Linked DNA regions of Homo sapiens. The protein of the gene in region 1 interacts with the protein of each later gene in a pairwise test. Each region holds a gene or a part of one and is shown on either strand. Other genes may lie near its edges.

Evidence for each region.
Region 2: the proteins of DHX34 (region 1) and RPS6KA6 interact in a two-hybrid assay, tested with the Homo sapiens proteins (one large-scale study listed by BioGRID and IntAct).

What each region holds. Positions count from the first base shown.
Region 1 is NC_000019.10:47,366,216-47,370,040, reverse strand, and holds part of DHX34 (probable ATP-dependent RNA helicase DHX34), read right to left. Parts: intron 3,061-3,825; coding exon 2,886-3,060; intron 1-2,885. UniProt on the Homo sapiens protein: Probable ATP-binding RNA helicase required for nonsense-mediated decay (NMD) degradation of mRNA transcripts containing premature stop codons. Promotes the phosphorylation of UPF1 along with its interaction with key NMD pathway proteins UPF2 and EIF4A3.
Region 2 is NC_000023.11:84,104,546-84,108,370, forward strand, and holds part of RPS6KA6 (ribosomal protein S6 kinase alpha-6), read right to left. Parts: intron 3,181-3,825; coding exon 3,078-3,180; intron 2,496-3,077; coding exon 2,365-2,495; intron 1,943-2,364; coding exon 1,820-1,942; intron 1,332-1,819; coding exon 1,242-1,331; intron 113-1,241; coding exon 1-112. UniProt on the Homo sapiens protein: Constitutively active serine/threonine-protein kinase that exhibits growth-factor-independent kinase activity and that may participate in p53/TP53-dependent cell growth arrest signaling and play an inhibitory role during embryogenesis.

The DNA.
Region 1 (3,825 bases):
AGGGTCAGAGGGTCTGCTGGCCCCAAATCCCTCAAGATTAACGCCCTATTCCTGATGACACAGCGTGGGGACGAGGAGCACCACATCTGCTTGTGACTGGCTACTGAAGACCTGAGATCAGGAGGGCTGGGAACTGAAAATGGTCTCCGTCGACCTCTGTGGACCCGCCCTTTCCAGATCCTCACAGAACCGCCAGGTCAACTGATCAATTTTCTGGCCACCTTCAGCCACTTAGGACCCAGTTCCACTTAAACACTTCCCATTTAATTCAAAGCTCCTCACCTGACCCAGGGCCAGAGGGACAGCTGTCCCCTCCCCTCCTTCAGGCCTCTGCCCAGATGTCACTGTTAATTGGCCTCCCAGGACAGCCAATTAACACTGCTCCCAGCCCCCACTGTGCCCACCGTGCCCTGCATCCACCTGAGCAGCAATCAGCGGCTGACATTCCGTGTTTTCACTCATTTATCTGCCCCTGTCCATCTCCCCTGTTACATGTGAGCTCCGTGAGGGCAGGAGTTTTGTTTTATTCACTGTTGTATCTCTGGCATCTAGACTAGGACCTGGCACAGAGCAGGTGCTCAAAAATTATTTAATGAATGGGCCAGGAGCTGTGGCTCACACCTGTAATCCCAGCAGTTTGAAAGGCCGAAGTGGGCAGATCACTTAAAGTCAGGAGTTCAAGACCAGCACGGCCGACATGGTGAAACCTTGACACTACTAAAAAAACAAATATTGGCCGGGCGCAGTGGCTCATGCCTGTAATCCCAGCACTTTGGGAGGCAGGCAGAACACTTGAGGTCAGTAGTTTGAGATCAGCCTGACCAACATGGTGAAACTCCTTCTCTACTGAAAAAACAAATACTGGCCGGGCACGGTGGCTCAAGTCTGCAATCCCAGCACTTTGGGAGGCTGAGGTGGGCAGATCACTTGAGGTCAGGACTTCGAGACCAGCCTGGCCAACATGATGAAACCCCGTCTCTACTAAAAATACAAAAATTAGCCAGGCGTGGTGGCGTGAGCCTGTAATTTTAGCTACTCATGAAGCTGAGGCAGGAGAATTGCTTGAACACAGGAGGTGGCAGTTAGCTGAGATCACACCACTGCACTCCAGCCTAGGCAACAGAGCAAAAACACTGTCTCAAAACAAAACAAAACAAAAATTAGCCAGGTATGATGGCGGGCACCTACAGTCTCAGCTACTCAGGAGGCTGAGGCAGGAGAATTGCTTGAATCCAGGAGGCAGAAGTTCCAATGAGCTGGGATTGCACCACTGCACTTCAGCCTGGGCAACAGAGCGAGACTCCATCTCAAAAAGAAAAAAAAACATATATATATGTGTGTGTATATATATGTGTGTATGTATATATATGTGTGTGTATGTGTGTGTGTGTGTGTGTGTGTATATATATACACACACACACACACACATTCAATGGACCGGGAGCAGTGGCTCAAGCCTGTAATCACAGCACTTTGGGAGGTCAAGGCGGGCAGATCACCTGAGGTCGGGAGTTCAAGACCAGCCTGACCAACATAGAGAAACCCCAGCTCTACTAAAAATACAAAATTAGCCGGGCATGGTGGCGCATGCCTGTAATCCCAGCTACTCGGGAGGCTGAGGCAGGAGAATCGCTTGAACTCAAGAGGTGGAGGTTGTGGTGAGCCGAGATGGCACCATTGCACTCCAGCCTGGGCAACAAGAGCGAAACTCAGTCTCAAAAAAAAAAAAAAAAAAAAAAAAAGGATTTAATGAATGAATGATGAGACTGTTGGTTACATCTCCCACCTTCTCCCTCTCACTCCACTGCAGCCACACGGGGCTCCTCACTGTTCCTGTAGCAGCAGGCATGTGCCCCCACAGGGCCTCTGTACTGGCTGTTCCCACTGCCCGAACACCCTCATGCACCATCTGCACTGTCCAATACGGCCGCCTCTGGCCACACATGGCTACTGAGCAGTTGAACATGGCTGGTCCAAACCAAGATTTCCAAGACGTCGTATGGTAAAAAATAACATAAAATCTTGCAAAAATGTTTCTATTGATTATGTTAAAATTGTGATGTTTTAGGTATATTAGGTTGAATCAGCTATTTTATCAAAATGAATCTCACCTGTTTGTTTTTGCTTTTTTTTTTTTTTTTTTTTGAGATGGAGTCTCGCTCTGTCGCCCAGGCTAGAGTACAATGGCATGGTCTCGGCTCACTGCATCACTGCAACCTCTACCTCCCAGGTTCAAGCGATTCTCCTACCTCACCCTCCCAAGTGGCTGGGATTACAGGCGTGTGCCACCACACCCAGCTAATTTTTGTATTTTTAGTAGAGACAGGGTTTCACCATGTTGGCCAGGCTGGTCTCGAACTGCTGACCTCGTGATCTACCTGCCTCAGCCTCCCAAAGTGCTGGGATTACAGGTGTGGGCCACTGTGCCGGCCATGTTTCTCGACTTCTGCTGGCAAGCATGTTCTAGTATTTGCATGGCTCCTAGCCCTCATCTCCATTTCTCTGCACAGATGTTACCTTCCCCATGAGGTCTGCCTTATACATGAGGCCTGTATTACAAACTGCAACTCCCCATTCCCCAACCCCGTTGTTTCTTCTCTCCAGAACACTAGGCACCATCTGATCTACTATGCCTTTTCCTTATTGTCCTAATGTATTGCTGGTCTTCTTCACCAAAATGTCAGCTCCCTGAGGCCAGAGATTTGTGTCTGTTCTGTCCACTGCTATATGCCCAGCACCTAGAACAGTGCCTGGCCCAGTGAAGAGTGAATAAATGAACTGGACCCAGGGAAGAAACAGACTTGCCCCCAGGCCACTCAGAGAGTGAGCTGTGCCCATACCCGCTCCTGGGGCCCTGAGTGATCAGGAGGGGGGTGGGTACTCACCAATCACAACGTCCACAGGCAGCTGGGCTAGCAGGGACCCAATGGGTGTGAGGGCCTCTGAGCTGTCCAGGGCCCCCTGGTCCCGGAGGTAGAGGATGGCGGTTTCCAGGCTGGCTGGTGGTGGGGGCTCGATGAAGGGGAAGGTTCGGGGGTCCCCCACACTCATGCTCTTCATCTAGAATGAGAAGCAAAACCCCCAAGATTGGGGAACACAAGAGCCACTGTGCAGCACAGCGGGGCTCAGAGATCACAAATTCATGACGTTTTAAAATTCCTAGTGTTGGCCGGGCGTTGTGGCTCATGCCTGTAATCCCAGCACTTTGAAAGGCCAAGGCAAGCGGATCACTTGAGGTCAGGAGTTCAAGACCATCCTGGCCAACATGGTGAAACCCCGTCTCTACTAAAAATACAAAAATTAGTGGTGGTGCATGACTGTAATCCCAGCTACTCGGGAGGCTGAGGCAGGAGAATCGCTTGAACCCAGGAGGTGGAGATCGCAGTAAGCCGAGATCGCGCCTCTGCACTGCACTCCAGCCTGGCAATACACCGAGACTCCATCTCAAATTCCCAGTGTCAGCCAGGCACAGTGGCTCATGCCTGTAATCCTAGCACTTTGGGAGGCCACAGCAGGTGGATCACTTGAGGTCAGGAGTTTGAGACCAGACTGGCCAACATGGTGAAACCCCATCTCTACTAAAAATACAAAAATTAGCCAGGTGTGGTGGCGAGTGCCTGTAATCTCAACTACTTGGGAGGCTGAGGCAGGAGAATTGCTTGAACCTGGAAGGCGGAGGTTGCAGTGAGCCGAGATTGCACCACTGCACTCCAGCCTGGGCCACAGAGTGAGATTCTATCTCAAAAATAAAATAAAATAAAATAAAATAAAATTCCCAATGTCAAGATCCACTGTGCAGAGGCAGGCAAGGAGGGCTGCTGTCTC
Region 2 (3,825 bases), on another chromosome or scaffold:
TATCACTAGCCTCCCGTTCCGAGAAACATTTTTGTTTGAGAATACGGTCAAGTAACTCTCCTCCTTTCATTAAATCCGTAACAAGGTAAACATATCTACCATCATCAAAGACCTACAAAAGAACGCAGTTTTAAAATGTTATTATTTATAATTACAATTCTATAATTCTTAAATTAGATTTTAATTATATTTACCTTTCTACTAGACTTCCCTCTAGTATTAGAAACAAAAAAGACATTATTCCTTTACTCTTAATGCAGTACAGGCTGTACTAAAGGTTGAATTGGCTAAACAGTCACCTACACAGTCCCATGAAACCATGTTAAACATATAATTTTATTGCCTTTTGAAGTTATAGGTTGCAGTTCATCAAAGAAAGAAATTAAAAAATAGAACTCTGTGCCTCTCAAATGACCTCTATCTCAATTTTTTTACTGTATTATAGCTACTTCTCTTCCCCAAACGTAAGCTTCTTTCTGAAAGTAAATACATTATTTATTTTTTATACCCTTCCCTCAGTTCATTATCTGATTTGGTATCTTAAATACTGGTTGAATTCCAATAGTATACCAAGGAAAACAAATAAGAAAAGTATTTATACACTTTTCACTCAGGGCATGTATGATAAACACACACACACACACACCACAGTAGTTTAAAGATTACAAATCAAAGTGCATATCATTTTCTGACACAAATTGATCAAGGTGATAGTTGACTTTTCTGTCTTGTATAAAGAGAAAAGAACATTATCTCCTTATGTGAAAAGTGAGCATTCAGTAACATATTAATGAGTTATACATTCATTTTACAAAACTATAGACTAAGACTATTTCACTCCAGAAACAATCCATAATGCTATAGCCAATTACTATACAATCAAGAAAGTAAAATATTCAAGAATTTGGCAGATCCCCAGTCTCCTGTATCTTCTGTATTGATAGCACTACAGAATAATAATTGGTGTTAGCTACAATGTTAACTAGTTAACCAGCCAGAATATATTCATGTAATGAGGAAATTCTCATTTACCAATCATCATAGTTATTTTTGATATTCTATAAGACTAGAAGTATAGAATCATGGGAAAAAAAAGAATTAAAGTGGCAATTTAAGAGTCCTGAGATTTTTGAGGCATGAAAATAAATATGCTAAAGACATTAAAAGTTTCAATAAGAAAAATAAAGTTCCAATTCATAACTTCATTAGCTTAGCTGATACCTAGATTTAGAAATACCTACATCCTTCAAAGTAATAATGTTGGGATGTTGTCCATAGCGCATCAATATTTCAATCTCTTCTGAAGGGTCTCGCTTACTTTTGTCAATGATCTAAGAAATACGAAAAAAGAAAAATATCTGAGGCAAACAAATTATTTTGTCTAAAATGAGTATTTTCCATTTGGTTATATTTTTGAAGAAATGCTTAAAAACTCAAGAACAATACTTACCTCATATTATTTTAACATTTAAAAACATAAGTAAAAAACTTAACAGAAAAAAATAAAATTTTAACATTATATCCTATTTCACTGAAATTGTACCAATGATGACGTGATTGTAATTATCACAACTGCTCAATCTTAACATAATACATGTATAACAAAATTATTCAAATGCAAAAATTCATGAAATACACTGTTCCTACATAACAAAGGCTTGAAAAGAAATTCAAAAATGAAAATATTAAGTCTCAGAGTTCTTTCTCATCATCTTATCTTTCCTATCTTCATTTACTCCACTGAAAATGTTTGTCAGTTGACTCATAATTTAAATTACATGCATAAAACAAACAAGAAAGCTAGGCTCAGAGACAATACCTTCACTGCAAATTCCATGTTGGTAGTTGCATGTATGCATCGCTTGCAAACAGAGTAGGAGCCAACACCAATATCCTCCTTCAATTCATATACTTCACCAAATTGTGCAGCATTTCCATTTATCTGTTTATTTTTAAAAAGTAAAATACTAAGGAGAATGAAATATTTTCACATTTTCTGTCTTTTGTCCTAAATATACATTCATCTTAAGCCTTAAACTAGAATAATTCATTCTACAGAAGTTTTATCGACATTTATAAATGGCGTGAACCAATCCTTTCTTGATACCCACAGGCAACATAATAAAGCAACTAGCTTATACATCACCCTTCTATTTTATTCAAAAGAGGCCACATAAATATAATTAAAAGTTACCACTGTCTGCTCTTTTCCAAAACACACAGGGACATATTTAATTCATGATTTATACCAATAGATAAACAAAGAAGTTAAAAATCACTTTAAAAAAAACGATTAAAAATACATCAGCAATAACAGAGAAATAATTATCCCAAAACTGAATAATGTGATTAAGTGGAATTTACCTGAACAATTGGTAATACATTTGCACTTGTGATAGGAGTGATTTTATATTCTTCTGCAATAGAAGTTGCAACAAAGCTGAATCCTTTGAAGAGCTGATGAGCATTTGCACTGGCTGGCAAACCGGGAGAATCTAATGTCCAAATAATTACATTTAATTATAACTACACACAGAATTCTATGATATAAAGTGTCAGAATTTCTTTAACTATAAAGGAAACCATTAAATGCTACTAACATATTATATATTTGATTTATTATATATTATCTGTCTCCTCCCATCTGTATACATGCTCCATTTTAGTCAGTATTTTTTGTCTGTTCTTTTCACCACTGCATCCTCATTGCTTAGTACATAGTAGGTATTCAATATTTCTTGAGTGTATGTATGAAACTGTAAAAGACAGAGTAATATATCTCACGTCTTACCTCCTACCCCATCCTGTAAATCATTAGCATGCCAAAGGACTTATAAAACAAAGAAATAAACTTGCCACCCTTTGACCAAGTTCCTTCCTTCCTGATAAATATTTCCCATTTAAAACATCTACTTGACAGCTGCCCAAGCAATGTTTTGTATAGGATCCATATTTCCCATGGACAAATCAACTCTCTGCAAATTTACCATTCTTTTAGTTTTTACTTCACAAGAAAGTTTATTTTTAAACTATCTACTTAAATAAAATCTCTGATTTTACAGATAAACATGCATTACCTTTAGGTGTTTTTGCAGTAAATTCAGGATCAAAACAAAAAGTATCATCTGGTTTTCCAGAAGCAGGTTTGAAAGGAGGTTGAACTTCTCTTTTATATAATTTCTAGAAGGGACAACCAGATAACACAAAACGTATTAAGACTTTAAAAATTATTATACTTTGTAAAACAAAGCAGAACATAATATTCACAGTCCATAATAGAAGACTAACAATTTCATAGTTTCAGATAACTGTTAACCAAATTCTAAAATTTTGAGAGATAATGTTCAAGATGTAATGAGGCCAAGAAACATAGCAATGATGCCACAAGCTGAATTCACAAGGAATGCTCAATTTTGGATATCAGAAGTTTTTGAATGCTCATTGATAATATAACCATGCAAATACAGCACAGTAATAACTAAAATGCTCAAGGCTTTCAAAATCAATAATTATTTTTAAAAAGTGCATATTTCATCTAAAATATTGTTTTCACATAAAAAATATACGTTAAATGTACTGTTTAGGCTTGTATCAGATAATTGAAAATTTAGTCGTCTAACAATCTATCTTGCTAAAATCTATGCTTTTGAAAGGCATAGAAAATTTCTAATAATATATAAAAGCCACTTCTTTTGAAATCTATTTTTTAAAAAGCTTACAGTCCCACAGTGGGGAAAAATAAATAGGGAATTACTTTTGAGTAATTTTTATGTATTTAAATATGTAAACATGACTTTTAGTTCATTATGGCTTACTAGAAACAGC